Homo sapiens: one gene and its partners. Changing the gene in region 3 together with the main gene of any one other region gives a genetic interaction. Each region holds a gene or a part of one and is shown on either strand. Other genes may lie near its edges.

Region 1 (5,558 bases), on a different chromosome or scaffold from region 3:
TGTTCAGGGTTTGGGACAGGTGGCAAGGATGACTACAGGGAGTCATCTAAGCAAACTGAAAGCAGGATTCAGAAACATAGTTTAATCATAGCTCGGTTTACTAAACTATAAAACATTCTGTCCTTTTACTTGAAAGAACTAGCTGAATATAAATTCACAAACTTGAAAAAACTACTTGGAAACCACTAGTTTAGTTTTTATTTAAATTTTAAAAAATGGTAATAAAGCACATAACTTATGTGACATGGAAGCAAATTTAAAACATTTATGAGTAATTATATTTTTAAAGTATTAGATACCTTAGCTCAACAATAGCATAGAAAGTTAGGCTTGCAATATGAACTACTTAAACAGTGTAAGATTTTCGGCCAGGCGCCGTGGCTCACGCCTTGTAACCCTAGCACTTTGGGAGGCCGAGGTGGGCGGATCACAAGGTCAGGAGATCGAGACCATCCTGGCTAACATGGTGAAACCCCGTCTCTACTAAAAAGACAAAAAATTAGCCAGACTTGGTGGCGGGTGCCTGTAGTCCCAGCTACTCGGGAGGCTGAGGCAGGAAAATGGCGTGAACCCAGGAGGCGGAGCTTGCAGTGAGCTGAGATCGCGCCACTGCATTCCAGCCTGGGTGAAAGTGCAAGACTCCGTCTCCAAAAAAAAAAAATTTTTTTTTCAGAATTGTGTAATTTTCTTCCAAATTTACCTCTTTGGCTAGGGAAAATTTTCTGGAGTTATTAAAATGCTTAATGGTTTACAAATTTCTTGTACCTAATTACCAAATAGCTAGAAAGTGAGGGAGGGGATGAGAACCTGGGATGATGAGTTCTGGGCTCTTGCCTTTTTCTGATGCACTAGACTGCCTCTTTCCCTGATGTTTTTTATTTTCTCTCTGTAAAAATGACAATTGTTTTATCTTTCTATCTGACATTAGAGCTATTTAAAGATAAAATGGTTTTAAATAAATTAGTTATTGGTATCTACGCATGAAATTCTATAGCACAACTACTTTTTTAAGTATAAATACAGTCAATCAAAATAAAATGTCCAATGACAAAAGCTGGTGAATGAGAAAACACTGAAACAGCTCATATTTGGGACTCACTGCCCATCCTGGAATGCCTCATATGAGTTGTAGTTTGTCTTTAATTCTTCACTGACTTAAAAAAAAAAAAAAAGAAAAACCCCAAACAGCCAAAAAAAAAACCAAAAACAAAAACAAACAAAAAACCTAGAGTCCTTACTGTAGCCTACACAATCCCTTAAAATCCAGTATTGGATTTTAGTTAGCAGGTTTCATAACTTGTGGAACAAAAGTAACTTTTTCAGGAGATAGGTCCCTAGCTAACAAGACAATAATTAGGATAACATTTCACTGATCTTGAGGTATAGAAAACCTATAAAGGTATAAAAGCAAAGGAAGAAACTCTACAGAAAAAAAAGAAATGACTACACAAAAATTTAAAACCACTATAAATGAGAAATACAATAAAATAATTAACAAACTAAATGACACAATAAGAAAAATTTTACAACATATAGGGAAAAGGATTAATTTTACCACATATAGAGTGCTCAGAGATCATCAGGACACACCAACAGAAAAACAGTCAAAGAATAGAAATAGGAAAATCACAAAAGAAATATGAAAGATAAATGAAGGTACAAAAACGTTCAACCTTACTAGTAACCACAAAAATCTTAACAGAAAAATATTTTTCTACTAACTTACTATTATAGGCAAAGCTTGTAATATGGCCAATTCTCAGTGCTTGGAGTGGGATTTTAGAGTTAATCTCAAAAAATGCTGGTGGGATTGAACATTTACCTAGTCTTTCTAGAGGGAAGATAAGCAGTACACAGCAAAAGTCCTTAAAAGACTTCAGACACTGATACAAAATGACTCTTCTAGAAAGTTATTCTCAGCAATTAATCAGAATTGCATTGTAGCATTCTTTTTGAATGCTACAAAGAAAGCTTATTACAATGTTATGGTAGTGAAGAATCGGGAGAAAAAGAATATAAGCAACATCTTAAACACAACAGTATATATTAAAATTGGATTTTTAAAAAACATACCATCAGATTGTGAGCACTGTCACAAATGAAAAACAAAATATGTACATGCAATAAGTCAAGACTTGAGAACGGGGAGAAAAGGATATGCATAAAATAAAAGACAATAAGAAATACATCCAAATGTTGGCAATGGTTTTCATGGGATTGTGCACCTGTTGGTAAATTTTAATGTTTTCTTTAGTTTCTGGCATTTTCAAAATGTGCCAGAGTTTGCGTATTACTACCTTTATAGTCAAGAGTGAGAAAGATTTGTTTTTTAAAGGGCTGAAAGTTAAGGAGAAAAATGGTCCAGTGGAAAATCTATTTTTCCCATACGGCTAGAGGTTTTGTGTCTGTATAAAATGCATACATATAAAGCTCCCTAACTCTACGTAAAATCTAGTTTCTTCCCATGTTCATTGTTTATCCTAACTGAACATTGTTCATTGTAGCATCTTAACAAATTCCAACTCTAAAAAACTATTTATCTAACGGGGTCTTGCTCCGTCAACCCAGGCTGGAGTGCAGTGGCGTGATCTTGGCTCACTGCAACTGCCTTCCGGGCTCAAGCCATCCTCCCACCTCAGCCTTCCTGAGTAACTGGGACTGTAGGTGCAGGCCACCATGCCTAATTTTTGTATTTTTTGTAGAAAAGGGGTTTTGCCATGTTGCCCAGGCTGGTCTTGAACTCCTGAGCTCAAGCAATCTACCCTCCTTGGCCTCCCAAAATGCTGGGATTACAGGTGTGAGCCACTGCGCCCAACCATTTATCTAACTTTCGACTACAAATTGCTAAGTATCAATAAGGTGATAGATAATACTGCAACCAAAAGTTCATCTATCCCTAATAAATCAACAGATGATAAAATAATGACACTCACTTATCTTTTTCCTCAATACTCTTTCAATAAGTGTTTATTCCATTTGTCATCTCATCAGTACCACTTACCTTGGCATTACCATCAGGTAAGAAGAGGTAGGCACCACTTTTGTCTCTTTTAATTGTGGTTCCATACCATGAAAATTGCACATTTACTTCATGGTGTTTACCATCTTCTTTAGTCATCATTTGCTAAAGATTAAAAAAAATAATAATAAGCAACTCACCACTAAGATGTTAAGCATGTTGCATCTGGTTCTATGTATATGACAATTTAAAAAAATAATTTCTGTACTTATCTGGTGGACCAGTGACACACAGACCACGGAGTAGCGCCACCCACAGACTATACATGTGAGCAGCAAGTGGTCAATGAAGGTGCAAAAAGCTCATGCTTCCTTTTACTCAAGAGTATTTGATACAGCTCTACTTAAGACTTTTTTCCCCTTTTGCCTAATTAATCTACACACATTGTAGCAAAAATGATAAGCATTCTATGAATTTTAGAACTATTCAGAACATACCTTCATAAGTCCAGTTTGATCAAACCGAAGTAAAACAAAGGAGTTCTCTAGTGTTATACCTTCTTCAGTATTTATCATATTCTTTATGGTGAAAATTCCGCTATCTTCTACTTTATTCTTATACAAGACATAATCAGCTAAATGTGAATTTGAACTTGCTGATTCCAAAATCTTATACACTTTCAGTCCCAATGGCGGTATATGTGCTCGAAAAGAGATCTTTAAAAGATAGGGAAGGGAATTTATTAAAGATAAATGTTATCTACTGAGAGGCAAACCATTTATATTTTTGGTAAAACCAACAAACTATCATATTTTTTAAAAAGAGAATCCAGTTGGCCCTCCATATCCACAGGTTCCATGTCCACAGTTTCAACCAATTACAGATAAAAAATGTTTGAAAAAAAAACAAAAAACAAAAAATACAAATAAAAACTATAGTATAATAACTATTTACATAGCATTTACATTGTATCAGATGTTACAAGTAATTTAGAGATGATTTAAAATACACAAGAGGATGTGTGCAGGTTATATGCAAATGCAGATGCTCCTCAACTCATGATTGGGTTATGTCCAATTAGAATTTGAAAATATCGTAAGTCAAAAAGGTGTTTAATACACCTAACCTATCCAAAATCATAGCTTAGCCTAGTCTACCTTTCATGTACTCAGAACACTTAAATTAGCCCACAGTTGGGCAGAATCACCTAACACAAATCATATTTTATACTAAATATAAATAGCTTATGTAATTTATTATATACTATACTGAAAGCGAAAAATAGAATAGTTGTATGGGTACTTGAAGTACGGTTGCTACTGAATGCACATTACTTTCACGCTATTATAAAATTGAAAAATCTAGGTTGAGCCATTGTAAGTCAGGGATCATCTGTACTATGCCATTTTATATAAAGGACTTGAGCATCCATAGATTTTGTTATCCCCAGAGGGTCCTGGGACCAGTCCTCTACAGATACCAAGGCATGGCTGTGTAACAATATTCTATAAATGTTTGATATCTTATGGGTAAACCATACATGTCTCAGTTTATCCAGAGAACCTAATAACCTAAAGTTGGTAGGCCTATCAAAAGCACTAATGTTTTTATCCAATATGTGAACCTGTATGATCATTCTCAATTGTTTGGCTGTACTCTAGAATGCCTAGAGAAGGAAATTTTCCATGAATGTAAGGGCTTTACAACAATGCCATTTCCTAATTATTAATTTTTTTTGCAATATTATGATATTTCGGTTAATAAAAATGATAAACATAATATAAATATTAAACAAGTTAGCATTAGCCATCAAATGCTTGAGGTTCAGCAGACACTGAACAGAGCATGGGGGATGCACACAGTTTAAGACATGACCCCTGCTTTCCAGGAGCTGTTGCTGTTCCATTTTCTAGATGGAAAGCTTCCTGTAAAATCTGACCAAAATTTTTATTATAGTTTACCTTTCTATCTAAAAGATGATGCATATTTAAGAGTAGCTAGAAGGTGGATCACGGGGTCAGGAGTTTGAGACCAGCCCAACCAACATGGTGAAACCCCCTCTCTACTAAAAATACAAAATTAGCCAGGCGTGGTGGCACATGCCTGTAATCCCAGTTACAGGAGGCTGAGGCAGGAGAATCACTTGAACCCGGGAGACAGAGGTTGCGGTGCGCCGAGATCGCGCCATTGCACTCCAGCCTGGGCAACAAGAGCGAAATTCTGTCTCAAAAATAATAATAATAATAATAAAAGTAGCTAGCAATAGCTTCTGTCAAGCAGAAACAATTCTTAGAGTTCCTAGTTTATGGCTGTATCTCCAGAAATGCCGTTTAAATGACATTCCAGATTTTAAAAGTCTAACCTTTCTAGTGGTACAGTGATCAGTTTAATATTGCTTATTTTAAGAAACTTTGGCACAAAAAATACCTATTAACTTGAGCACAGATTTTCCACAATTATATCTCACAAAAGAAGCATCTTAATTATTTTAGGGCATTTCTCTTCCATGGTGTGTTATGTCACCTTTGCAATGAAAACCTAAAACTATCCAAAGTTACTAAGGGTGGTATTTATCTCACTTTCGATATGCATAATTATC
Region 2 (5,558 bases), on a different chromosome or scaffold from region 3:
AAAACATCTAGAAAAGAATGGAAAATTGTTTTCCTCAGTGAGGATGAAAGAGGCTATGAACTTTTCTGTGTGTAACCAACCTAAGAATATAAAAGCAAACTTTTCATTCCTAATTAAGAAATTCAGATGCTATCCCAAGCTATTACCTTCTTCTTCTTCTTCTTCTTTTTTTTTTTTTTTTTTTTTTTGTTTAAAATACAAGGTCTCTCTCTGTCACCAGGCTGGAGTACAGTGGTGCAATCATGGCTCACTGCAGCCTTGAACTTGTGGACTCAAGCGATTTTCCTGCCTCTCTCCCAAGGAGCTAGGAATGCAGGAGTGTACCACCATGCCCAGCTAAATAAAAAAAATGCCAAGTTGCCCAGGTTGGTCTAGAACTCATAGCTTCAAGCAATCCTCTGGCCTCAGCCTTCCAAAGGGTTAGGATTACAGGCATGAGCCACCACACCCAGCCTATTACTTTCTTATCTGTATTATTGTCAACTTTACATTTATTCTTCCTCTTTTAAATTAGCTGTGGAAAGGTGTATGTATTTCCTTTTCACAAAGTATTAAACCATCTATTCCTATGTCCTTTTCTTTTGATGTTGAGAGAGTATTTCTTTTTTTAAACCCACATTCACCCTTACTCTTTTTAACTTCTCTACCATTCCTTCACATTCCTCCATTTTATTATTTGCAGGATAGCAATGATAGGATTCATATTTACCTCACTGGATTTTTATGAGACTTAAAAGACCAAATGCTTTGAATAGTAAAACATGAAATTAAAAGGGCTAGGATCTTTATTTTTATGTAATGGAGGGATGAAGATGGAGCACAGGAGAGTTTTTGGAAAGTGAAACTATTTTGCATAATATAGTAATGGTGGATACATGTTATATATTTGTCAAAACCTACAGTGCTTGACTATAGTCCCAGATACTTGGGAGATCGTTTGAGTCCAGAAATTTGACTTCAGCCTGGGCAACATTAATGAGACCTGTCTCTTAAAACAAAACAAACCAAAAACCAAAAACAATAAAACATACAACAAAAAGTGTGAATTCTAATGTAAATTATAGACATTAGTTAGTAATCAGTGTCAATATCATTTCATCAATTGTAGTAAATGTACCACATTAAAACAAGATGTAGGCCAGGCACAGTGGCTCACGCCTGTAAGGACAGCACTTTGGGAGGATAAGGTGGGCAGATCGCTTGAGGTCAGGAGCTGAAGACCAGCCTGGCCAATATGGTGAAACCCCATCTCTACTAAAAATAAAAAAATTAACCAAGCGTGGTGGCATGCACCTGTAATCCCAGCAGCTTGGGAGGCTGATGCACCAAAATTGCTTGAACCTGGGAGGTGGAGGTTACAGTGAGCCTAGATCAAGATCATGCCACTGCATAGAGCTGGACTCTTTCAAAAAATAAATAAATAAATAAATAAATAAAAATAAAAATAAAATAAAAAACAAGACGTAAATAACAAGAGAAACTGTGAGGAGTGGAAGAGGGTATGTGGAAACTCTACTTTCTGATGAATTTTTCTATGAACCTCAAATTCTTTAAAAAAAGTCTATTAAAAAAAAACCCACTGAAGAGCAATGGATGTTTAGAAAAACATGTATCTTTCAAAACAAGGATAAAGACTTCATAAATTAATATTTACCATTCTCCAGCTTGGCTGACTGAATTTAATTCTGTTACATTGTACATAATAGATGGCTCCAGTGAAACCTTCTCCATAAACATAGGTGAGGTTGTCATATTCTGAATCTGGGCTTCCAGAAATACTTCATCAGTCTGAGGATATGAAAAAAATATCCACCAAGGTGTGGTGGCATTTAAAATATTTATCTCAACAAAAATATCTTATCTATATGAAGAAAAAATATTAACCACAAATGTGATTAGTTCATGCCTGCAAATCAAAGTTACCACAATTAATGCAAGAAAAGAAATCTTCACCCTATCATAATTAACAGGGGCAAAGTCAAGTGTTAGTCAACTGATACCTTGTCAAACAATGGATGGAGGATAACTATATTTTGTCTTAACATCCCAAAATACTTAACTGGAATTTCATTTACAAATACTCTTTCTTTTCATTAGGTATTAAAATATTAAAATGTGCTTTAGTATGATGAATATACCTATGCTCCTATAATTTCAGTATTACGTTAAGATAATTAAGTCTTCATTATAATATGGCAGTATAACTTTGATTGTCATATTAATGCCAATTTAGATAGTGTAGTGACCACTAATACTATGAATAATCTATTTTGTAATCTTGAAGGATTTAACTTTTTAAATTAAAGCAATTTGCGAGTGGTCATTAGTGATTTCTTAGTTCATTTTAAATGTATATTGAGGGCTAAAAAAAGAATATGTGGATTATACTTCACCATCGTAGAGCTTTTAAATCAGGCAAAAGGTATTTTGTAGCCTCAGTGACAGATTTTAAAGCTGATGCTATTTAGCAATATTTGCCAGTAGGTAATTTTAATAATTAGATAAATTAGATAATTAGATAAATTTAGATAAATTAATTCCCCTAATTATGCTAAACATTATTTTATGCTATTTGGTTATTATTTTCCTTCATGTAATTGAAGGATAACAGACTAACTTGATTTATCTTTGAAACAAACCTACATGAAAAATGATACACTAAGGGTATTCAATAATTTTTTTCAAAAGTTTCATAGTAATATGTTTACTACACATAAATAACATAAAATCAACTATGACCAGAAAAATTTGCCACTTAAGAGCTTTTTATTTTTTTGAGACAGTCTCATTCTGTCACCCAGGCTGGAGTGTGGTGGGGTGATCTTGGTACACTGCAACCTCCGCCTCCCGGGTTCAAGGGATTCTCCTGCCTCAGCCTCCCGAGTAGCTGGGATTATAGGCGCGCAATATCATACTGAGCTAATTTTTGTATTTTTAGTAGAGACAGGGTTTCACCATGTTGGCCAGGCTGGTCTAGAACTCCTGACCTCAAGTGATCCACCCACCTCGGCCTCCCAAAGTGCTGGGATTAGAGGTGTGAGCCACTGTGCCTGGCCTATGAGCTTCCCCCAACCCCCACAAGATGGAGTCTTGCTCTGTTGCCCAGAGTAGAATGCAGTGGCAAGATCTCCTCTCACTGCAACCTCCACCTCCCAGGTTCAAGCGATTCTCCTGCCTCAGCCTCCCTAGTAGCTGGGACTACAGGCAGTGCCACCATGCCCAGCTAAATTTTTGTATTTTTATTTATTTTGAGACGAAGTTTCACTCTGTCACCCAGGCAGGAGTGCAGTGGTGCGATCTCAGCTCACTGCAACCTCTGCCTCCTGAGTTCAAGTGATTCTCCTGCCTCAGCCTCTCAAGTAACTGGGATTACGGGCAAGTGCCACCATGCCTGGCTAATTTTTGTATTTTTTATAGAGATGAGGTTTCACCATGTTGGCCAGGCTGGTCTCAAACTCCTGACCTCGTGATCCGCTCGCCTCGGCCTCCCAAAGTGCTGAGATTACAGGCATGAGCCACCGCGCCTGGCTGAGCTTTTTAAACACTAACACCAAGAAAATGAAAATCATTTGCAAAAATATAATGATTAAGTTATAATATAATGTACTATTATCTAAAATAAAACAGATTCTTTAGTTTTTGGGACATGTGTTCAAATGAAAATAGAAATAAAATGATTTATCAGTTTAAAAAAATGCATCATTTAATGGCATTTTTTGGTTACTGGTTCTAAAAAAAAGTACATATATCCCATCAATCCATTGCTTTTAAAAAAATAACCACAGACCCACATTTCAATTTAAAAACTGCAATTTTCTGCATAAATTTAGGAAGAGCTTAGATAAAACGAAAGAAAAACAAGCAGCATAATGGAAAATCAAGTTAGTTTGAACAGTTAGTGTAAAGCAATTTGATATTTTAAAAATTAAGAATTCAGTGCTAAGGCAGTTGATGTTATTACATATGTAATGTGATATAAGCAAATGCTGCTTATTGTAAATATAACTTTGAAAACAAAATTTTAGCCAAGTTGGGAAAATTTGCTTTTCTTCTGTTTCATTTTGTCAAGCGGCCATCATCACCTGACCCAGACTTAAAACTAAAACCACTGTGCATCTGAAAATGAATTTCGATTATACAGTCTACTCAAAGAACTGAAGGCTAGGATAATCGGGTATTTTACAGTAAGATGATGAAAATCACAAGGCCATTTGACACAAGGTAACATACCTCTTTAAAAAAAAAATCTAAAGAAGAAACACTGAAAATGAGAATTGTTTCAGTATGACAATTTAACTTTTGAGCTAATTTTGCCCCACGGAATAGAAAATTGATATAATTAAAAAGTACATAAAATTATATATAATCTTTCTGAAGTCACATAGGTGGTATTCACAACTAACTGTTTTTCCACTATGTTTTGTAAAGAGAGATTAATTAGGCAGAGTCAAAAAGTGGTGAGTAAGAAAAGTATAAAAATTTATAATAAAAAATCAAATTACCACAGAACTGAGGTCACTCTAATGGAAAAATAAAAAAGAATAATTAGAAAAATCAGAGTTAAATGTTAAAGAAAAAAGAATTACTTTAAAATAAAATGCATTTCTGCATTTTTTTAAATTACTAAACAAGACAGCATTAGTAAATAAGAAAGTAAACAGGAAGCAACATAAAGAAATATGACAAACCATTTTTCTAAAAAGGTGAAACTGCTAAGGTTAAATGACAATGGAATAGAGAAGAACCCTATGGCTGAATACTCAACAGTAGCAAACTGTTAAGGGCACATTTTGGAGCAGAGAGGTATACCCCATGACTTTCTAGTTCTATAATTCTTTACCAACATTGCAATTCTTCATAGATAATTTAGGATGAATATATACTATCCTCCACATTCAGAATAGATATACACCGTATACCTTCTCTTAAATTTATGTAATAATGGAATCATCTTTCTAAGGAATATCTTGGGCAATTAGAGTTCCGTTGATCACTTCAGGGAATGTGGGGCTGAACCACTTGAAAAAATTGAGAATTCTCTTCTTCTTAGTAGATTTCATAGTTAGCCTTTTTAAAACTTATATATTTCTTCAATGTTTTATTAAGAGCAATCTCAAATGTCACCTCCATCAAATGCATAGCTGGAAATCATTTTTCACCTCTCTAGGTACCCAGGATGTGTTACTTCACGATTTGGGTTATATGTGTGGGAGGGGCTTACATTATAGTTGCATCATGTCAGTCTCCTCTACTGGATGCAGGTCCCTTCAGAATTGGGAAGATGTTCTGTTTATATTTATCTTCGGTACCTGGCAGGTGACCAAATGTTTGAAACCTAGCTTCTAGTCTCACCAATCTGCCTGCAAGGCTTTTCTATCTTAGAAGACTATAACAAAGTTTCTCATGAACTTGTTTTCCTTTAGGTGATTCACATATTACAGCATTATTAGAAACAGTATCAAAATATATGTTTGAGACAGATGTGGGGCCAATAATATTAACTGTAAAAGGACTACAGCACAGAGCAATAAGCATCACTTACTGATATTACTGTGGTT
Region 3 (5,504 bases):
AGATTATTACAATTAAAATCTCTCTATCTCTATATAGTACAAAAGAATTTAAGAATATGAATTAGTTAATTTTAACAAACATTTATTAAGAGCTACATACACAGTGGTCCAAGCTAGGCACTCATGATACCAAAATGAGTAAGACATAGTTTGTGCCCTTAAAGAATTTGAAGTTTAGGATTAGGATAAAAAAACTTAACACAAATAAATGCTGATGGTCCCTTTCCTTCATACACTGTTAATCAATCACACATTCTCATCTGCTAATTTATAACTTGGTGTCAGAACTGTTTTCTTTTTTTTTAAATTATACTTTAAGTTTTAGGGTACACGTGCACAACGTGCAGGTTAGTTACATATGTATACATGTGCCATGTTGGTGTGCTGCACCCAGTAACTCGTCATTTAACATTAGGTATATCTCCAAATGCTATCCCTCCCCGCTCCCAGAACTGTTTTCAAGAGAGATTCATGTAATTACTGACAATCAACAAGCACTGGCAAGTGAGCTAAAACACATCGGCAATTTCTGTTCTAAAAAGTTTTAAGTGTGCTGTGTAGAGAGTGGCATGCTTGGATGACATAAACTGGGCAAGCCTTTGAGGAAATGCATCACCCTGATTACTATAGTTTTAAGGCTACTTAAAAGGTCCCTATGTCCAAAGAATACCCTCTCTGCTCACTGGATAGCAGGTGAAATTCCACAATCTGAGCTTCAATCCTTGAGGTTAATGCTTAGTAATAAAGTTAAACTAAACTATCACCCAATTTAAGCAATTTATACATTGTGAAAAGAGAACAATGCAACTCAGATGAAATTTTCCTAAATCTCCAGTTATGGTAATCTTAGTTAATGCTTTATTGTCACTATACCAATAGTTTTGCATGTATTTAAAATGACGCTACTCATAGTAATTGCTTATCTGCTCAGTGGAGCAATTTAGGACTACCCGGCAGTCTTTTAAAACCTTGGCATTTATGAAGATTAAAAACTTGAATGGTGATATGGTTTAGATTTGTGTTACCTGCCCAAATCTCATGGTGAACTGTAATCCCCAATGTTGGAGATGGGGCCTGGTGGGAGGTGATTGGATCATGGGGGCGGTTTCTCATGGTTAAAACCATCACCCCTTGATGCTGTGGTCACAGTAGTGAGTTCTCGTGAGATCTGATTGTTTAAAAATATGTGGCACCTCCCAATTCTCTTCCTCCTGCTCCAGTCATGTGAAGTGCTGGCTCCCCGTTTGCCTTCTGCCATGATTGTAAGTTGCCTGAGACCTCCCCAGCATCATGCTTCCTGTATAGCCTGCAGAACCATGAGCCAGTTAAACCTCTTTTCTTTATAAATTGCCCAGTCTCAGGTATTTCTTTTTAGCAATGCGAAAACAGACTAATACAAATGGAGATGCCTATTCTTAACTCTTATCAAATAAAATCTGACTAGGTTAATCATCACCTCAACTTAGAGAATCTGAATTTCAGAAAACTTGAGGGGCAATTCTCAAATGCTATATATAATTTGCAAATGAAACTACATTTGCCCCAATATTTTTAATTTTGCAGATAGGCAACTAAAACACAAGGAGATTAAGTGATTTATGCAAATTTTAGTGATAGAATTTCAACTAGATATAGAACCAAAATAATAGAAACCTTGCTTTCAGATTTATTAGTTCAACAACGATTATATTGGCAATGTCATTTTACAATTGAGATCATTGGTAGAATACCGAGACTATAATAAAATAGGGATCAAAAAGATTTGGAACTTTTGAATTTCAAATTCAGCCAAAGGCTCATAGAAGGCAAGCAAAATTAAGTGGGACTCAGGAAAAGAAGAAACTAAATAATTAAAGCAGCTCCAATAATAGCAAACTACAATAACAATGACAGAGGCTAATATTTACTGAGCTTTTGCTAACTGTCAGACATTGTTTTTAGACATTATCTAATGTAATTAGATTCCTTTCAGCATCCCCATAAAATTCTATCATTATGTTTGTTTTACAAATGTCAAAGGGAAGTTAAGGCATTGCTCAAGGTTATACTAATAAGTGGTAAATTCAGGTTGGAACCCAGGCAGTCTGCATATGCTTGAAACTGCTATATATATTTTCTCTTGTAAATCTTATTCTCCATGTTCATATTGTAACACCAGAAAGATATAGCATAAGACCAAAGACAGTCTTGGGTAAACCTGACAGTCTTCTTTTCAGGGTGTCTTCACCCACTCTTCAGTCATCCCTAGCCAGGAATGCAGGACCTTGTGTTACTCTTAGGATGACCACAATCTCTACTGTGACAATGAACCGTGATGTGTTTCCTCCTCTCCACTCTTAAACGTCTTACTCTCATAAAAACAACATCGCACCCTGTCCCACACCCTTAGAGACCTGTTTCTTCTGGGGATAATCCTAATAATTAGTGTATGTTTTGCTATCAAGAGTTGTTCATGTGTTAACCTTGGTGGATAACAGAACTGTTTTCTTAAACCAAAGAAATAACTATTATAATAATAGTAGAGATTTCAGACACTGAGGTGGCCCATTATAAAAATGACAAATGTGACTGTAGGCCTCTGCAAGCATACCAGTGCTACACAGGTGTGGCCCTTTATTTTTCTCATAAGAATGACCATTAAAGATAGCAGCTGAACTTAATGAGCACCGATTATGTCCCAGGCAGTGTTATAATAGTGTGCTCTTCCCTCACCTTGTCTCAACTCATTTAACTATTATGACAAACCTGTGAGGTACTATTATTATTCATATTTTACAGATGAAGAAGCTAAGCCACAGAAAGATTAAGTAAATTTCAAAAAATAAAAATAAAAATCCAAAAAGGAACTAGTTAATGGCAGAGCCACAGTCAGAACTCTTTCAGGCTCTTGAGTATATATTCCCTTAGGATAAACACCTAGAACAATGCCTGCCACAAAGTACGTGCTCAATAAGTATCTGTTGAATGAATATTGCTCCAGGCATAATACCAGCCCAGTAATGGAGACACAAGTCCATGGGTGATATTTAACCCTTAAGATCCATATATAACATTAAGAGGAAGTAATTTTAAAACTGTCTATATCAACCATGGGACAATTTACTGCAAAAGGCTAAAAAGATTACTATAGTGTTAATGTTCGCATTTAGTCACTCTATGCTTCCTCTCTTCTTTCCTTACCTACCACGTGGTTTAAAAGTTCAAATCACATGGCAGGTAAATGAAGGCTTGCAGCTGACGTCCATACTCAGGTTTGATGCTTGACAGGTGGCATGACTGAGAGCAGTCCATGGTTTGCAAAGCAGTGGTTGGCTACATGTAGTATGTTTAACTTTATTCTGTGTTGACATGGCACTGTATCATTTTTAGTACATCGTAAAGCACACAGTAATGGGTAACAGCAAAAATCCTGCCAAAGGATAAAACAGATATGACTGTATTAAAAAAAATTTTAAAAAGGGGGAGGAATCCATTAGTCTGAATTTCATCCCTTAGAAGTAGCCTGAGTTTACATAAGCCTCCAAAGCTTTCTCAGAGTAGATGGGATCTTATTTTTGTCAAAATAGATAGATAGGGGCAGGAGGATATCCTAGTGTGAGAAGTTGGAAGTGGCTGAGAGATCTGTGCACTTTTCCTGTAATCTGCTTTGTTTTACTATACAATAAGAGAATAAGACCCAGGTCTTTTCTTTGTTGTGAGAAACACCAGAAGGATTAATGCAGTAACAGCTGCACTGTACAGCACTCAGCATTGTAAGCTAGATAGAGCCTCTGTGGATGCAAATACTTTTCTTGTCTTCTGCTCTGGGAAGTAATCACAGAGTTCACACCTTGGGATTTCACCCTGTGCTTTCCTCCATGGTACTCTCAACAGGTATCCACTGTTGTTTCATGAGCCACATCTCAATGGAAATTCCTGTCCAGAGCCATCTGTCTGGAATAGTTAACGTAGTTTTTGGTTTTGCCCTCTGGGCTTCCAAAATCTGATTCAAAGTGTAATAAGGGGAGTAGAATTGCGTGCGGATTTGGAATTAGACCAAGAGAGGCTCATGAGAGTATTGTAATAACTGCCATAAAGGGAGGTGTCATAGGGGGAAAAAAAGGATTTTGTATTATGATAACTTTTAATGGCTGAAACTACAGAGTAACATTAACTGCTCTTTAAACAATGTCTTTAACAATGTTAGTCTTTAAAGTGAGCATCTGCAACCATTTTTTAAGTCAGATTTCAGAAAAATAAAAATTGATCCCAGAACCTGATAAGCAATATTTTCAGAAAACCTTTCTGATACTGTGCCTATCTACAACTGGGCTGTCAACTGCTGTTATTCTCCAACTATAAATTCTTTGCTTTAGATTTAAGATTCAAATAAGAAAATAGGTGACAAAGGAGATGCTTTGCACATAGGCGATTTCCAGTAACACAGAATAGGATTAATGTATTTGGTAGAACGTTTTAGAATGTAGTTGCATAGCTTTCAAAATTCACTTGACGTACTTGAAAAAAATGCTAATATTGCCTCCAATTTTCATATTAAATCCTGAGGACTGTGCTATTCAATTTATGAGGCTTTTAGGACAAACTTGGCTTTGAGAAACAGATCTGATGAAAGTTAACAGCAATAATAGTAACAAAATTAGAGAGCAGAGCCACAGTGTTGGCTTTTAAAACCTTTTCATTGAAGAAGAGAGAATTCCCAGACCTCACTTATGGATATAAAACCAAGAAAGATGAGAAGTCCTGAGACTGAGGGAGATAGGTCTAAAAATTTATGAGAAATCCCGATTAAGGTCCCATGACATTTTTGCCTGCAGTTTTCCAAACATCTAGCCTTGTATTTTTCCTTCTAGCATGGCATTTCATTCCTGCAGTATTGTCTACAATAGCTCATGGTCAACAGGTCAACTCTTTCTCACTATTGTTATATGGTATAAAATTCCTGAAAGGATAGTGTATAGGAGACAGAAAGTTTACATGAATAAAACTTAAAGATTGTCAAAGAATTATGAAGGAGATATTAAACTTGGATCACTTCCTAACATCTCTTGGCACATGAAATTATCATCTAAGAAAGTTGAGAGTTGGTTATCCATGTTTTTATTCTGGGCTGAACTTATTCTCAGTGTTTATCTTCTGTCACTCTTCTGGATGTATGGCTTTAGTCTTCCTCCATTTTCTAGAATGCTTATGACATATATAGGAAAGTCTGAAGATTAATTTCACTAAAGTCAACACACACACATTTACTTCAAATACTAAGTCTTCACTCACCTTTTGGGAATGAAGAACTTTTGTTTCTGAAAAATCGCATCATATGGCAATATTCTCTTTCAATAAGCTAAACAAAATGAAGTTGAGGTGGTACATTGGCCCAGAGAAATTGTACATGCTGAATGTTAACAGTTCCTCTTCTTTACGGACCCTAAGCATTACCCGTAACCACAAGCAGAGCTAATGGAGGCCTTGACTAGCTCGTTTCATGCTCCTTCTAAAATGTGAGCGCA
Region 4 (5,558 bases), on a different chromosome or scaffold from region 3:
GAGTCAAGTGACTCTCCTCCCTCAACCTCCCAAAATGCTGGGATTATAGGCATGAGCCACTGCACACAGCTAAAACTTTTTTCTCAGTTTTTATTTTTCCTAACTAGAAAAGTAACAATATACCCACTGTAGAAAAAATTCAAACAATAAAGAGTATGAATTAAAAATCTCTGCCTAGTAGCTTATATCCTATTTCCCAGATATAGTTACAGTTAATGCTTATGCATCCTCTGTATATCCATGTATCTATGTAATGCATATGTAAGCATGTATATAATTTACTTGATTTTTTAAACACACAAAAAGGATATTACAGTTCCGCAACTTGCTTTTACTTAATATATGCTGAATATCCTTAAGTATTAGCATATATAAATCCTCATTATTCTTTTAAAAATTTACATATAGTACTTTATTGTAGAGATATAACATTATTCACCAAATCTCCATTGATGAATATCTTGGGGTTGAACTAATCTATATTTATGAGGTCAACTTTTATGATGAAGCTATAAGACAAATTTCTAGAAGTCAAACTGGAAGTTCAAAAGGTTTATGTTTTTAAAATTGACATTATTGGCAAATATCTCTTAAAAGGTCTATCAATTTATACCTCCCATCAATAATGCTTCATATTGCCTCATTGTCCCAATACTGACTATATATTAATCTCTGCCAATCTGAAAAGTGAGAAACACTTTAGTTTACAGTAGTTAACTTTGAATGATGCTGAGACTCTCATTTGGGTGTCTTTCTCTGCTGTTTGCTTTTTCTGTAGCATTGCGATTTCCTTAATGATTTCTAGCTGTTCTCACACAGTAGAAAATTAGCCTAATGTTATGTGCTGTAAGTATTTCCCCCAGGTTACTGTTATGTTTTCACTTTGTTCATGGTATCTTTTGCTATAGTTTCTTGATTATGTAGTAAAATTCTTTTTTTATGCTTGACAGATTTTTAAATCATACTTAGTAGAGGTTTCTTCATTTCAAGATTATAAAACTATAAAACCATGTTTTACTCTAGTGTTTTATACTTTCATCTTTATATATCTTTGATAAGTATAGCATATATTTATTTTATTAATACCAACAAAACATTAATCCTAATATTAGTCTTATTAATATTAATATATTAATATATTACATTATATGCCATTCACTGTTCTAAATGCTTTACATATATTAACTTCTTTAATCCTCTAAAGTAAATAGTATTATTATACCCATTTATCAATAAGTGAGCCACAAAAGTCAAGATGTTTAACACAGTTACATGCTTAGGAACTAAATGGGCCGGAATTTGAATCAGGCAATCTGGCTCAAGTTTATGCTCTTAACCAATGATCTGCTGTCCTTTGCTACAAATGGCCAATTGTCCCAAAAACAGAATTCTAGTTTTAGTTCCAATTACTTTTCTTTGGGTTTTGGGCAAATCTTAATTATCTTGGAATCTAATTTTTCTGTCTTGTGGAAGGAAACAGGTATCTGTGCCATATCTCAAATCAAAGGATAATTTAATAGAAAATTGACAAGATGTTTTAGCTCCACTGACACAAGTACACAAAGGAAGTACCACTACACTCCTTGCCATAATAATGTATTAAAATACTTGTTTATAAAAGAGATAAGAATAAAGCATACATTTTCTAATTGTTTTCAATTTGTACTAAGTAATGTAATGGAATCTTCATTTCTGGTCATGTAATATATATTCTACGGCCAGCATAAAAATAACTTACACAGTCAAGCTGTAAGGGAAAAATATCATCTACATTCCTCCTATAATTCCAAGAAGTATACAGAAAACCAAAATACTGATAACGCTATTTTACTAGGTGTATAATTTACTTTTCTTAGATTATTTTAGATGGTAATAATTCATCTGAAAGAATTTATTTACTTAAGGAAATAAAGTCTGTTAGGATCTTTCATTAACACGACAAAAGTAAAATGTTGTCCTCCTTTCTCCTATTTAAATATATTAAAAGATGGATCTGCTACCTTTCACTGTAGTGTCAGAAAACTCTACACTAGTAGAATTTATCAATGAAGAGCCAAGTCAGATTTAGAGAAATCTGTTCAAATATCTACCCACTTAGTGACTGATCTGGCATATCCATGCTACATGATCTGAAACGAGAAATAATCATTATGTCCCAACTATTCAAATGTCATTCTTTTAAAAATAACAGGAATGTCCTAGCTGCTGAAATTTATCAGAAGTGAGTTGCCCACCAGAATAAGTCTATTTACTTTCTAGCCTATCAAAGAAAGGTACTTACTCCAGGAAAACATGGGGGGTGGGAATATCTAATATATCTAATCATATGTGGATGCTTACTATTTCATACTTTATATCAAGACCTAAATGTTCCCAATGTATAAAAAAGTATCTGAAAGTAATTAAAGTTAATAAAGACAAATGTAAATCATTTTTAACATGTATTCAGTATTTTTAAATTACTGAGATATTTTGCTTTTTTGTACTATTTCTTCAAAAATCATTATGTATTTTACACTTATAGCACTTCTCAATCTGATCAACCATATGTCAAGTACTCAACAGCCATGTACAGCTAGTGGCCACCACACTGGATGGTGAAAGTCTACAGCATATGTCTATGATTCCAGTTGTTTCTGCCTCTCATGACAGATTAAATTTTCTGCCCTCAGTGTTTTCCCCCTATTCTTTTCTCGTGTACCTGCTTCAGTTTTCTTCCACATTTATTTAAGCTCTATGGCCTCCAAATATTGTATTCCAAGAAAGAACTATTTTTTCGAAGAGTAGAGCAACACAGTGCATTATGTACACATATACATATATTATGTTTAACTTATCTGAATAAAAAACTCTTGTAGTAATTATTCATCTGTGATCTTTCTTGGGATTCAAAATGATTCTGCAGCATGTATGAAAAGACTGCTGGTATTTTAATACTTCTAAAATAGACATAAAAGTTGTGGAGGAAAAAAATTTGTTACATATATAGTAAAATTTCTGAAAAATAACTTCAGAAGTACTTTTCTTATCACAAATGTGATACAGTCATTGTAAAAAAAAAAAATACAGAAAGTGATCAAATAAAAATCATCTTAATCTTCCCGAGATAACCTGCTAACATTCTGATGTATATCCACCCAGTATTTTCTTTTTGCATATATATGTATAATTTAGTTAAGCAAAAGTGGGATTATAATGTATCTTTTAAATGATTCCTTCATTTAGCATGATTTGAATATCTTTCCATCATTATTTTTAATGTCTGAATAGTATTCCATTACATGAATTTACCATATTTTAATCAATTTTCTATCTGCCATTTAGGTTTTCATTTTTTTAACATAAACCACCTAATAAATAGATCTGTAGGTAATTTTTGTGTTCATTCACTTTACTAAAAATAACTTCCTACCAGTTGCAATTGTTGGGTCAAGTCTCTAGTTGGCAGCTTAACTGTGCAGAAGTGGGAGATGTCAGGATGCCCAGCAATAAGGGAGGTAGAGATCAGAATCAAAGTGGGCCCAGAAGCCAAATTTGGCAGAGACTGCAAAGTCTTTATAAATCTATTCCAAAAATGAAAAGAAAATATATTCCAAAAATTGGGGGAAAATGTTACCAGTAAATGAACAGACAAGGGATATCGAGAGAAATGAAAACTATTTAAAAAATATTCAAAATAAAACAAATAAATATGCTAAATGGTCTCTACAGTATGGCAGAAGACTTAATGAACCTTGATTAAGTTGACCAACCTTGAAGATTGGTTAAGAAAATGATCTAAGAAACATAGAGAAAAAAAAAAGGCTGAAGAAAAATGAACAAAATTCGAGAGACCTGTGGGACAACACATAGCAGTCTAACACTTGTAATAATCAGTAAAGCATGTAGTGGGCTAAAGAGTGGCCCGCTAAAAGATTATGTACACATCCTAATCCCCCCAATCCTGTGAAAATTACATGGAAAAGTGTGATTATTGCCTTAAATGACAAAAGACATGCTTAGGTTAAAGATCTGGGGAAGAGGAGCCTCTCTTGGATTATTTGAGTGGGTTCTAAATGCAATCACATGTATCTTTATAAAATATACATACAGAAGAAAAGACATACACATAAACAGAGAGAAGGCAATGTGAAGTTGGAGCACAGAGTGATGTAGCCACAAGCCAAGGAATGCCAACAGTGAGACAAGTAGGAAGAGTCAATGAACATATTACTCCCCTATGAGCCTACAGAAGGAGCATGACTGCTATGGTTTAAATGTTTGCTCCTCCAAAACTCATCTTGAAATTTCATTGCCATTGTAACGGTATTAAGAGGCTGTGCCCTTATGAATGCATTAATGCCACTATCACAGAAGTGAGATTGATATAAAAGGGCAAGTTTGGTCCCCTTTTCTCTGCCCTCACCTTTGCCCTTCTGCCACGTGATGTTTTCTGCCATGTTATGACACAGCAAGAAGGCCCTAGCCAGGTGCTGGCACCTGATCTTGGATTTCCCAGCCTCCAGAATTGTGAGAAGTAAATTTCTGTTCATTATAAACTAGACAGTCTCAGGCATTCTGTCATAGTAGCACAAAATGGACTAAGAAGTAGACCTGCCAACACCTTAATTTCAGACTTCTAGACTTCATAACTGCAGAAAAATACATTTATGTTGTTTTAAGCTACCTACTTTGTGGCCATTTGTTTCAGCAGTCCTAAGACATTAATAAAGATATAGAACAGAAATTCTCAAAGTGTAGTATACAAAACTCCAGCAGTGCCAGAAACTCTTTGGGGAAAATCCATGAGTAAAAACTATTTTCATAACAGTACTAAGATGATATTTGCCTTTTTCACTGTGTTGACAATTATACTAATGATACAAAAGCAATGATGGCTGCAATGTGAACCCTGGGGCACAAACTGAAGCAATGGCACCAAGCAATACTAGCAGTTACTATATTCTTCACCACCATGCACTCACACATAATTTTATTAGATTAAAAATGATGGTCTCTGTGAAACATAAAGCACTTTTATTGCACACTGAAGTATAAATGTTATCTTCAGGAAAAGTATTTGTTTAACTTAGCTGTGAGCTCTACCATTGAACAAAACTTCAGCAAATAGAAAACAACAATATATTGAAAGTAAAATACATTATGACCAAATGGGGTTCATATTAGGAATACAAGGCTGACTGACCATTTGAAATACATTCAATGTGATTCAACATATTAACAGACTTAAGAAAAAGCCACATAATCACATCAATAGATACAGAAAATGCATTAGATAAAACTTGGCATCCATTCATGATAAAAACTCTCAATAAACTAGGAAGAGAAAGAAACTTTCTTAACCTGATAAGGACTATCTACTAAAAACCTATAGCAAACCATACTTAATGGTAAGGGACAGACAGACTGCTTTCGTCCTAACATTGATTACATGGAAGGCAAGATGTCCTCTCTCATCATTCCTATTCAATAATGTACAAGATGTAACAGCCCCTTCAGTGAGGCAAGAAAAATAAATAAATAGTAGATAGACTGGAAAGGAGTAAAAAAAAAAAAAA
Region 5 (5,120 bases), on a different chromosome or scaffold from region 3:
AGAGGTACTGGGAAGATAAAGAGAACTGAAAATTTCAAACAAGAACCCTCTATATAATGTGTAAGATGTACTTTTACAGATGCTATTATGATAAAATTAAACATATTCAAATGCTTATAGCATATGGTTACTTTTGCCCAGATATCAAAAGAAGTTACATGACTTTCAAAATTAGTATCAAAAACAGGATATTTAAATCCAGCCACATGTACAGAACTATGAATCTTTGTTCTTCTCAGAGCTGAACACAATGACTCCACGAGATGTTTTCACTCAGAAGTGGCATATTAAAAACCCAAAAGCATCTCCCTCTGCTTAATTCCACTTAAACTACATAAAAATTGCCAATATGACTTTTCACCAGCTTCTCCATTTTATTTGAAAATAATACTTTTAAAATGATTTTGACATTTTCATATATAAATTTATTTTTTTCCCAACTATAATTTTGGTTTTATGTACAAGTACACAAGTACCACCTTATTTTTAATGTTTACCTTGAAGGGTAGAAAACAAAATCATGTTTTATAAATGTGGTATAAAATTACACATCTTCTCATGATGTCATGTCAATAATCCACTACACTAAACCAACTGTAACAAGGTAGTACATGCTTTAAACATCCAATTAAGAATAAATCTGAGCCAACACCTTGATGATGACAAGGGAATGTGCTGATATCGTGTTAAACTGATGTGGCAGTAATCCAAGGGACTAAGCACATGATTATTCAAATTAAAACATAAAAAGGACAAAAGGTGTGGATTTTCTGGGCTACATCACATAATATTTGTCTGGCGAAACCATAATACAGATTTGGGTAAAGGAGATTTTTAATAGATAACAAGTAATTCTTTATAGGGATTTGAGAAAGTACGAGAACATATGGGAAAAGCTTAGTAATTTAAGATTTACTTTTGTAAAACCATGTGGACAAATATTAAATGTTATGCTTGCATTTTGAACATTATAAATATAAAACATAAAACATCCAATGTTAAATACTGATATCCCATGCCTGACCTGGATTTAGATATTGAGTATTTCCCATTTTAAAGAAAGAAACTTTCAAAGTTTTGTCAATACTTAAACTATATACTATTATTCCTCACCAAAATCTTCATGAAATTTAAAAGGCTGATATTGAAGGTAGTTTTTTTTTCTCAAATATGCTAAAACATGTGAGTTTGGATTAACCTTCAGATTTTCAAGGCATGAAAGATACATAAATAGAGTACCCAAGAATATGTTTTAACACATTTAGGATAAGTTTGTTTACAGTTGTGACAGGAATACCTTTGACTTTCAGACACTGAAAAAATATACCCTAAGCAAACATAAAAGGTGTTTTGGGTCAAGTTACTTCTTAGTACAAATAATACGTTGTATCAATCAATTTTTAAGCCAAATTCTTAAAATCATTCAAAAAACACTTGCATTTTATAATTGTCAATGCATTTATGTAATAGAAGATACAACAAAATTTAGAAATAAAAAATCTCACACTATATTCCAAGTACCAAAATAAGAAGAAATTTGCAAATTAAGAAATTATCAATGTTGCTCAGAAACATGCCTTACTTTTACTCTGAAATTCACTTTAACTGCTTGACATATAATTTAATACTTAAAAATAATATAGCTAAGTTGTTTAATAGTATTTATAGAATGCTACTTTTCTGGGTAGACATGTTTCACAAAACAGTTTTCAATTAATGCTGAGCATTCATTTGATAATTGTAATCATAATTTGATTCACTGATTAATGGATTAATAATTTATTCAGTAATTTAGATGCCATAAGAACCACTGAAAGGAATAATCTGATAGTTGCTCATTGTACAATCCTGCCTATTAGTAATACTAAGCCAAGAATCTGCTAGCTTTCCCACTCTGTTGAATTACATGTTTCCATGTGTGTGATTTTGGTCAACAACAAAAAATCGATACACAATGTCATGCTTTTTCCTTTTCCTTTTTTTTTTTTTTAAACAAGCAGCTCAGCGATTTGGGAGGTTGGTTAGTACAATACAGAGAACACAGAGAGAAAGTATAAAATGGCACTGAACACTAATGCCAATACTTATCTCATTGTGGTTATAACGAAGGATATTATTATTTGTGTTATTTTTGTCTGGAACATAAATCAATGCCATTAACTTGAACTTGAGGTATATACACAATACACACACAACCTTAAGCAAAATACTTTTCATAAGTAACATTACATTTTAAAATATTGGAAACATTCGAATATCTGTGCTGATTTGTATTCTGACTTAATGGAACAAGAAGAAAATAACATTCAACTAGGGAGGGTTAAACTGATAATAAAGCTCTTAAAATTCAAAATGTCTTCCTCTCCCTTTGTACTTACCATAGGCTACACAATGTCCTGAGAGGATTCATTATGAGAAAAATGTCAATCACAGCTTCAATAACTTACTTTGGAAAAAACTAATGAGAAAGCAAACTGGAAGGTGAGACTTCATCTTTGTTTTCAAATAAGTGGTCTTAATTTTTCTTCTTATAGAAAAAGTTTAAATCAGTTTATTATAAATATATCTAAACCATTAATTTTTGCAGCTTTCAGGTAAAGTCCAGCACTTCATTTATACAAAATCTATGAGAAGAGGTCAGTAGAGATCATCTAATCTTAAGTCGTGACATCATCCATTCAAGTCCTTGGCACAATCTATAAAGAAAACAAAATCATTTGATTAAATTCTGAACTAAGAAGCTATGAGCAGCAAACTATGAACAGCAAACTAAAAGAGAGCATTTTTCATTTAGCTAAATAACAAAGATTTAAAAATCAATAATATTCAGTGCTTGGGCTGCTGCAGTGAAGCCATATTCTCATACACAATACATCTGTGCTTTTTTTGTCTTTCCTCTTTTTTAGACAGGGTCTCACTCTGTCACCCAGGCTGGAGTGCAATGGCACAATCAATGGCAGCCGTGACCTCCTGGGCTCAAGCGATCTCCCCACCTCAGCTTCCCCAGCAGCAGGGACTACAGGCGTGTGCCACCACACCCAGCTAATACATCTGTGCTCTTTTGGTTCAGTTATATCTCTAGCACCCAGAACGCTGTCTGACACTTTAAAAAAGCTTTATAATTATGCAATGAGTGCCCACAGAAAGCAACATATGTCAAAAATATATCTGGCAATACGTATCAAAAATATTTAAAATATCAATACTCTGCATCCTTTTTTCTACTTCTAGAAATGTATCCCAAAAAAGAAAATCAGACATAAACATAGACTTACATACAAAACTGTTCATTAAAGTACTTTTAATAGGAAAATAATTTTTGTCTAAAAATACAGAAAAAAATAAATTACAAGACATTTGTATGATGAAATATTTAAAATTTTCCTTTAAAAAATGATTTCATAATTCTCATCACCAGGAAATGGAGGAAATAAAACCATTTTATAATAGGATAAAATGCTCATGATATAAATGAAAAATGGCAGGATATTCAACAAAATATATATTGTAGTTATTAAAACAAAGTATACACATGTTACATAAATATTATAAAATGTAAGTATGTAAAACTTTTGAAGGCAATAAAATTTCTTATCAGTAACATCAGTTATCACTGAACAACTGGTAATTGAACATAACCCAAAATATAGAAAACGATGTTCACTGTGGGAAAAGAAACTAAAAGTTGAGCAAGAGAGAAATGGTTGTACACATTAAGTTGCAATAAAATGAAGAACTGTTATAAGTATTAACTATTATCTATGACAAGCTTTTGCAGACATAAAAAACTATGTTACAATATTAAATTTTTTTCAATTCAGAGTTTTGTTAAGTATGAGTCTAATAACGTAAAAGAAGACACAAATAGAAAAAAGATGGCAATGAGGTAAATAAATGGTTGTTTTGGGGTGGTTGTCCCATACTTTTCTCCTGTGACTAGATTCATTACTTTTAAACTACTGATAGGAAACAGTACACAAAAATAATAGATGAAGAGATTGTTTAACTCCAAACTGATAAATGAACAGTAGTTACCTAATAGCAAACTAGAAACTAACTTAATATCCATTCTCTTAATTAATCTTTACAACACTGAGATCAGAATCCTTCCAATGTTACAGAGGAAACCCAGGGTTGGCAATGTTAGCAAATGGGAAAAGTAGGAGTCAAATGAAGCCACACACTGAAGTTTGTGATCTCCAATCCACTGAATCAAAACGCTAATCAATACTAAAACCAATAATTTAGATCAAGGTAGCTGAACTATAAAAGAAAAACAGAACATTTCTCTCAAAACCAAACTCATCTATTATTTTCCTATTTTTAAAACAAAATTGCTTTACCTCTTTTTAAAATGAAATTGAGTTAATATCTATACTAATGATACATTTTCCATACAATTATCAAAGTATATAAATTAAATCTTATGTCAATCCTAGATGACGTGTCTTTATTGACAAATATTATAAATCCATGCTTTTGCTTGACAAAGATATATATATTAGACTATTTGACAAAGAAATACTTAACATATTTTTACTTAAATGAATACATGGATAATTGGTATTATCTGTGATTTTTTTAATGAACAGTTTTTTTTTAATTAAAAAACCTTTTTTAAGGTTCTAATTATGCTCTTCCAAATGTCAGTAACAGTGCCTTCTATTAAGATTTGCCTTCAATAATTCGTTATATTTGGTTCACCCTTCATCGTGGTCTTGAAAGGAAAACAATTTCTCCCACTTCAGCTAATTCATCTATACCCCATGCTTTTGTCCTTTCCTAACACCTCAAGAACCTCAACCCCAAACTTAAGACTTCTATTTAGAATTCACCGCTTATTTCTCTTTTCCTCTGCTTTTAAATGCAATCATGCATCATTTAATGACAGGGATACATTCTGAGAAATGTGTCAGGTGATTTCATCATTGTGTGAACATCAGAGTGTACTTACACAAACCTAGATGGTATAGCCTAGTATGCACCTAGGCTCTGTGCCATACAACCTGTTGCTCCCAGGCTACACACCTATACAGCATGTTACTGTACTAAATTCTGTAGGTAACCATAACCCAATAGTAAGAACTTTTGTACTGAAACATATCTAAAAATAGAACAGT
Region 6 (5,558 bases), on a different chromosome or scaffold from region 3:
ATCTCTTCTAAAAATACAAAAAATTTGCCGGGTGTGGTGGCACATGCCGGTGGTCCCAGCTACTCCGGAGGCTGAGAAAGGAGAATCGCTTGAACCCAGGAGGCAAAGGTTGCAGTGAGCCAAGATCGTGCCACCTCACTCCAGCCTGGGCAACAGAGCAAGACTCTGTCTTAAAAAAAAAAAAAAAAAGATATTTAGCTGCAGCCAAAGTGACAGATTTCACCTTAAGATATAATTATGGGAGTCACTGATCTATGCATAAGATTTAAAACCATGGGAATTAAAGACACCCAGGGAGTATATAAGAGTAAGAAAAATAGGTCACCTTGAAGAACACCAATATTTAAGGAGGAGAGAGAAAAAAACAATCAGAAATGGAAGAAATATTGAGAATACTGCTGTTGAGAAATAGCAACCAAAAAAAAGAAAGAAAACCATAACTACCCTTCTGGTGATATCCTAGAAACCAAAGAAAGCAATTGTTGTAAAAACAAAATAACAGCCAAAGGTATCAAATGCAGCTCGGAAAATGAGAACTGAAAAATATTTTTCTATTTAATAACCAGGAAGCCATTTGTGGCCTTATTTATTTATTTATTTATTTTGAGATGAATTCTTGCTCTGTCGCCCAGGCTGCAGTGCAATGTCATGATCTCGGCTCACTGCAACCTCCACCTCTCGGGTTCAAGTGATTCTCCTGCTGAGAATCACTCAGGAGGCTGAGGCCTCCTGAGTAGCTGGGATTACAGGCGCACGCCACCACACCCGGCTAATTTTTGTATTTTTAGTAGAGACAAGGTTTCACCATGTTGGCCAGGCTGGTCTTGAACTCCGGACCTTGTGATCCACCCGCCTTGACCTCCCAAAGTGCTGGGATTACAGGCATGAGCCACCACGCCCAGCCTTGTGGCCTTATTAAGGACAATTTTGGGATGTGTGGGTAAAGAAGCTAAATTAGAAAGTTAGAGGCAAGAATGAATGCAGATGAGTGCTTCCCACCCAACCAGCAGCTTCAGAATCAGAGGAACCTGCTATAATAATGGTACAAATTGAGATCCCAGGTCCCACCTTTGTAAAATCCTATTTCATAGGATTCAAAAGGATCCCAGAATCTGCATTAGTAAAAAATCTCATGTGGCCGGGTGCGGTGGCTCACACCTGTAATCTCAGCACTTTGGCTCAGGCGGGCAGATCACCTGAGGTCAGGATTTTGAGACCAGCCTGGCCAAAAAGCTGTACGTTTCTTTAGGAAAGCCTGGGCCAGGCGTAGTGGTTCACACCTGTAATCCCAGCACTTTGGGAGGCCAAGGTGGGAGGATCACGAGGTCAGGAGTTCGAGACCAGCCTGGCCAAATGGTGAAACCCATCTCTACTAAAGACACAAAAAAATTAGACAAGCATGGTGACGCACACCTGTAATCCCAGCTACTTCAGGGGCTGAAGCAGGAGGATTGCTTGAACCATGGAGGTTAAGGCTGCAGTGAGCCAAGACTGCACCACTGTACTCTAGCCTGGGGGACAAAGTGAGACCATTTCTGAAAAACCAAAACAAAACAAAACAAAACTGCAGTTTCTAACTGGCTTTGCAAGTTGATTCAGTCAATAAAGGCACTAATTAATGGTGGGAGTCATTATTTGCCTTTAGCGTTAATACATGATAATCAGATTAAGATCCATTAGTTTAAGGTCTTGTAGTCTGCTATCAATTTTTGCAAAGGAAATATGTATACACAAAGACTTAGAAAAACCTCTCAGCTGGGCGCAGTGGCTCACGCCTGTAATCCCAGCACTTTGGGAGGCCAAGGCAGGCAGATCACGAGGTCAGGAAATTGAGACCACCCTGTCCAACATGGTGAAACCCCGTCTCTACTAAATATACAAAAATTAGCTGAGCATGGTGGTGCACGCCTGTAGTCCCAGCTACTCGGGAGGCTGAGGCAGGAGAATCACTTGAACCCGGGAGGCAGAGGCTGCAGTGAGCCAAGATCTGCACCACTGCACTCCAGCCTGGGTGACAGCGTGAGACTCCGTCTCAAAAAATATATATATATATTTTTTTTTTTTGAAAAAGGCTACTGTTAGGTCTTTTGTTTTTTATTAATTTATTTATTTTTGTGACAGGTTCTCACTCTGTTGCCCAGGCTAGAGGGTAGTGGCATGATCATGGCTCATTGCAGCCTTAACCTCCTGGACACAGGTGATCCTCCTACCTCAGCCTCCTGAGTAGCTGGGACCACAGGCTGGCACCACTACACTGGACTAATTTTTCTTACTTTTTTATAGATATGGGGTCTTCCTATGTTGCCTACCCTGGTCTGAACTCCTAGGCTCAAGCAGCCCTCCTGCCTTGGCCTCCCAAAGTGCTGGGATTACAGGTGTGAGCCACTGCACCCGGCCTATTTATTTATTTTTGAGACAAGATACTGCCATGTCACCCAGGTTGTAGTGCAGTTGTGCAATTGTAGCTCACTGCAGTCTTGACCTCCTGGGGTCAAGTGATCTTCCTGTCTCAGCCTCCCCAGTAGCTGGGACTACTGGGCCCGCACCATGCCTATTTTTTAAAAATTCTTTGTAGAGACAGGTTCTCACTATGTTGCCGAGGGTGGTCTTGAATTCTTGGGCTAAAACAATCCTAGCACCTCGGCCTCCCAAAGTGCTGACATTACAGGTGTGAGCCACCACACCTGGTGAGGTCTTTTGACTATAATATATAAAATATCTGTGCTAGATGTTGTGGCTCATGCCTGTAATCCTAGCTCTTTGGGAGGCCAAGGCAGGAGGATTACTTGAGTCCAGGAGTTCAAGACCATCCTGGGCAACAGAGTGCAGCTCTGTTTTCTAAAAAAAACTGTTTAGTTAGCCAGGTTTCAGGGCATGTGCCTGTAGTCCTAGCTTCACAGGAGGCTGACGTGGGAGGATCACTTCAGCCAGGAGGTTCGAGGCTGCAGTGAGCCATGATCAAGTGACTACACTTCAACTTGGGTGACAGAGCAAGACCCAGGCTCTTTAAAAAACAAACAAACAAACGAAACTGGAACGGGTATGGTGGCTCACACCTGTAATGCCAGCACTTTGGGAGGCTGAGGCAGGAGGATCATGAGGTCAGCAGATAGAGGCCATCCTGGCCAACATGGTGAAACCCCGTCTCCACTAAAAATACAAAAATTAGGCCGAGCACAGTGGCTCATAACTGTAATCCCAGCACTTTGGGAGGCAGAGGCGGGCAGATCACGAGGTCAGGAGATTGAGACCATCCTAGCTAATATGGTGAAACGCTGTCTCTACTAAAAAAAAAAAAAAAATACAAAAAATTAGCCGGGTGTGGTGGCGGGCACCTATTGTCCCAGCTACTCGGGAGGCTGAGGCAAGAGAATGGCATGAACCCAGGAGGCGGAGCTTGCAGCGAGCCAAGATCGCACCACTGCACTCCAGCATGGGTGACAGAGTGAGACTCCGTCTCAAAAAAACAAAAACAAAAACAAAACAAAACAAACAAACAAAATACAAAATCAGCCAGGCATGGTGGCATGTGCTACAGGTGCCTGTAACCCCAGCTACTCGGGAAGCTGAGGCAGGAGAATCGCTTGAACCTGGGAGGTGGAGGTTGCAGTGAGCTGAGATCGCACCACTGCACTCCAGCCTGGCAACACAGCAAGACTCCGTCTCAAAAACAAAAAACACCAAACTGGCCAGGCACAGTGGCTCACGCCTGTAATCCCGGCACTTTAGTAGGCCGAGGTGGGCGGATCACCTGAGCTCGGGAGTTCGAGACCAGCCTGGGCAACGTGGCGAAACCCCGTCTCTACTAAATATACAAAAATTAGCTAGACATAGTGGCGCATGCCTGTAGTCCCAGTTGCTCAGGAGGCTGAGGCAGAATTGCTTGAACCCAGGAGATGGAGGTTGCAGTGAGCCAAGATCACGCCACTGCACTCCAGCCTGGGCAATAGAGAAAGACTATCTCAAAAACAAAAAACAAAAGCAAACTGAAGATCTAATTATACTGTAATATGTAATTTAAGCAAACTTCATTAAATACTTAAGACTTTTCGGCCAGGCGCGGTGGCTCACGCCTGTAATCCCAGCACTTTGGGAGGCCGACGCGGGCGGATCACCTGAGGTCAGGAGTTTGAGACCAGCCTGACCAATGTGATGAAACCCTGTCTCTACTAAAAATACAAAAATTAGCCGGGTGTGGTGGCATGCACCTGTAATCCCAGTTGCTCAGGAGGCTGAGGCAGGAGAATTGCTTGAATCTGGGAGGCAGAGGTTGCAATGAGCCATTGCACTCTAGCCTGGGCAACAAAAGTGAAACTCCATCAAAAAAAAAAAAAAAAAGAGTTTTCAACAGAATATGCAAGCATCAACTACTGCTTTGGAATAGTTAAGCAAAACTAGATCCCAGCATTGAAACGTTTTCTCACCTTCTTGAAAAATATCCTGTTCTCCAACTTGATACCATATCCCTACTCTCTGTATTATTAGCAGGATGAACAATAAAACAACCCAGGCTAGGCTTGGTAGCTCATGCCTCTAATCCCAGCACTTTGGAAGGCTGAGTCAGGAGGATCACTTGAGGTCAGGAATTTCAGACCAGCCTAGGCAACATAGAGAGACTCATCTCTACAAAATATATATAAAACATTATATATATAATATACATATATCTTTACATTAGGCCGGGCGTGGTGGCTCATGCCTGTAATCCCAGCACTTTGGGATGCCAGGGTGGGCGGATCATTATGAGGTTTGGAGTTCAAGACCAGCCTGGCCAACATGGTGAAACCCCATCTCTACTAAAAATACAAAAATTAGCCGGTTGTGGTGGCACAGGCCTGTAATCCCAGCTACTCGGGAGGCTGAGGCACGAGAATCACTTGAACCTGAGACATGGAGGTTGCAGTGAGCCGAGATCGAGCCATTGTACTCCAGCCTGGGCAACAGAGTGAAACTCTGACTCAAAAAATAATAATAAAATATATACATTATATATATATATTATATACTTATATAAAAAATGGGGCCTGGTGGTATGCACCTGTAGTTCTAGCTACTGGGGAGGCTGAGGTGTGAGGATTGCTTGAGCCCAGGAGTGACAGTGAGTTGTGATCCTGCCACTGCACTCCAGCTTGAGGGACAGTTTAAGTAAGATCCTGTCTCAAAAAAAAAAAAAAGGCAAAATACAAAAAACCTGTAGAGGCCAGGCACAGTGGCTCATGCCTGTAATCCCAGCACTTTGGGAGACCAAGGTGGGTGGATCACTAGAGGTCAGGAGTTTGACATCAGCCTGACCAGCATGGTGAAACCCCGTCTCTACTAAAAATATAAAAATTAGCTGGGTGTGGTGACACGTGCCTGTAATCCCAGCTACTTCAGAGGCTGAGGCAGGAGAATTGCTTGAACCTGGGAGGAGGAGGTTGCAGTGAGCCGAGATAGCGCCATTGCACTCCAGCCTGGGAGACAAAAGCAAAACTCCGTCTCAAAAAACAAACAAACAAACAAACAAACAAAAAACCCTGTAGAAATGGAACTTATAAAAAGACTATGAAAATTATATT

Evidence for each region.
Region 1: changes in FUT8 (region 3) and MAN2A1 together harm fitness more than expected from each alone (negative genetic interaction), as found in Homo sapiens cells (one large-scale study listed by BioGRID).
Region 2: changes in FUT8 (region 3) and TRAPPC13 together harm fitness more than expected from each alone (negative genetic interaction), as found in Homo sapiens cells (one large-scale study listed by BioGRID).
Region 4: changes in FUT8 (region 3) and SEC24B together harm fitness more than expected from each alone (negative genetic interaction), as found in Homo sapiens cells (one large-scale study listed by BioGRID).
Region 5: changes in FUT8 (region 3) and ARL5A together harm fitness more than expected from each alone (negative genetic interaction), as found in Homo sapiens cells (one large-scale study listed by BioGRID).
Region 6: changes in FUT8 (region 3) and SEC24A together harm fitness more than expected from each alone (negative genetic interaction), as found in Homo sapiens cells (one large-scale study listed by BioGRID).

Annotation. Positions count from the first base shown.
Region 1 is NC_000005.10:109,817,786-109,823,343, reverse strand, and holds part of MAN2A1 (alpha-mannosidase 2), read right to left. Parts: intron 3,676-5,558; coding exon 3,457-3,675; intron 3,125-3,456; coding exon 3,002-3,124; intron 1-3,001. UniProt on the Homo sapiens protein: Catalyzes the first committed step in the biosynthesis of complex N-glycans. It controls conversion of high mannose to complex N-glycans; the final hydrolytic step in the N-glycan maturation pathway.
Region 2 is NC_000005.10:65,654,598-65,660,155, reverse strand, and holds part of TRAPPC13 (trafficking protein particle complex subunit 13), read right to left. Parts: intron 4,521-5,558; coding exon 4,503-4,520; intron 1,789-4,502; coding exon 1,655-1,788; intron 1-1,654.
Region 3 is NC_000014.9:65,736,369-65,741,872, reverse strand, and holds part of FUT8 (alpha-(1,6)-fucosyltransferase), read right to left. Parts: intron 1-5,504. UniProt on the Homo sapiens protein: Catalyzes the addition of fucose in alpha 1-6 linkage to the first GlcNAc residue, next to the peptide chains in N-glycans.
Region 4 is NC_000004.12:109,456,340-109,461,897, reverse strand, and holds part of SEC24B (protein transport protein Sec24B), read right to left. Parts: intron 1-5,558. UniProt on the Homo sapiens protein: Component of the coat protein complex II (COPII) which promotes the formation of transport vesicles from the endoplasmic reticulum (ER).
Region 5 is NC_000002.12:151,800,629-151,805,748, forward strand, and holds part of ARL5A (ADP-ribosylation factor-like protein 5A), read right to left. Parts: intron 2,697-5,120; coding exon 2,648-2,696; 3' UTR 1-2,647. UniProt on the Homo sapiens protein: Lacks ADP-ribosylation enhancing activity.
Region 6 is NC_000005.10:134,650,715-134,656,272, reverse strand, and holds part of SEC24A (protein transport protein Sec24A), read right to left. Parts: intron 1-5,558. UniProt on the Homo sapiens protein: Component of the coat protein complex II (COPII) which promotes the formation of transport vesicles from the endoplasmic reticulum (ER).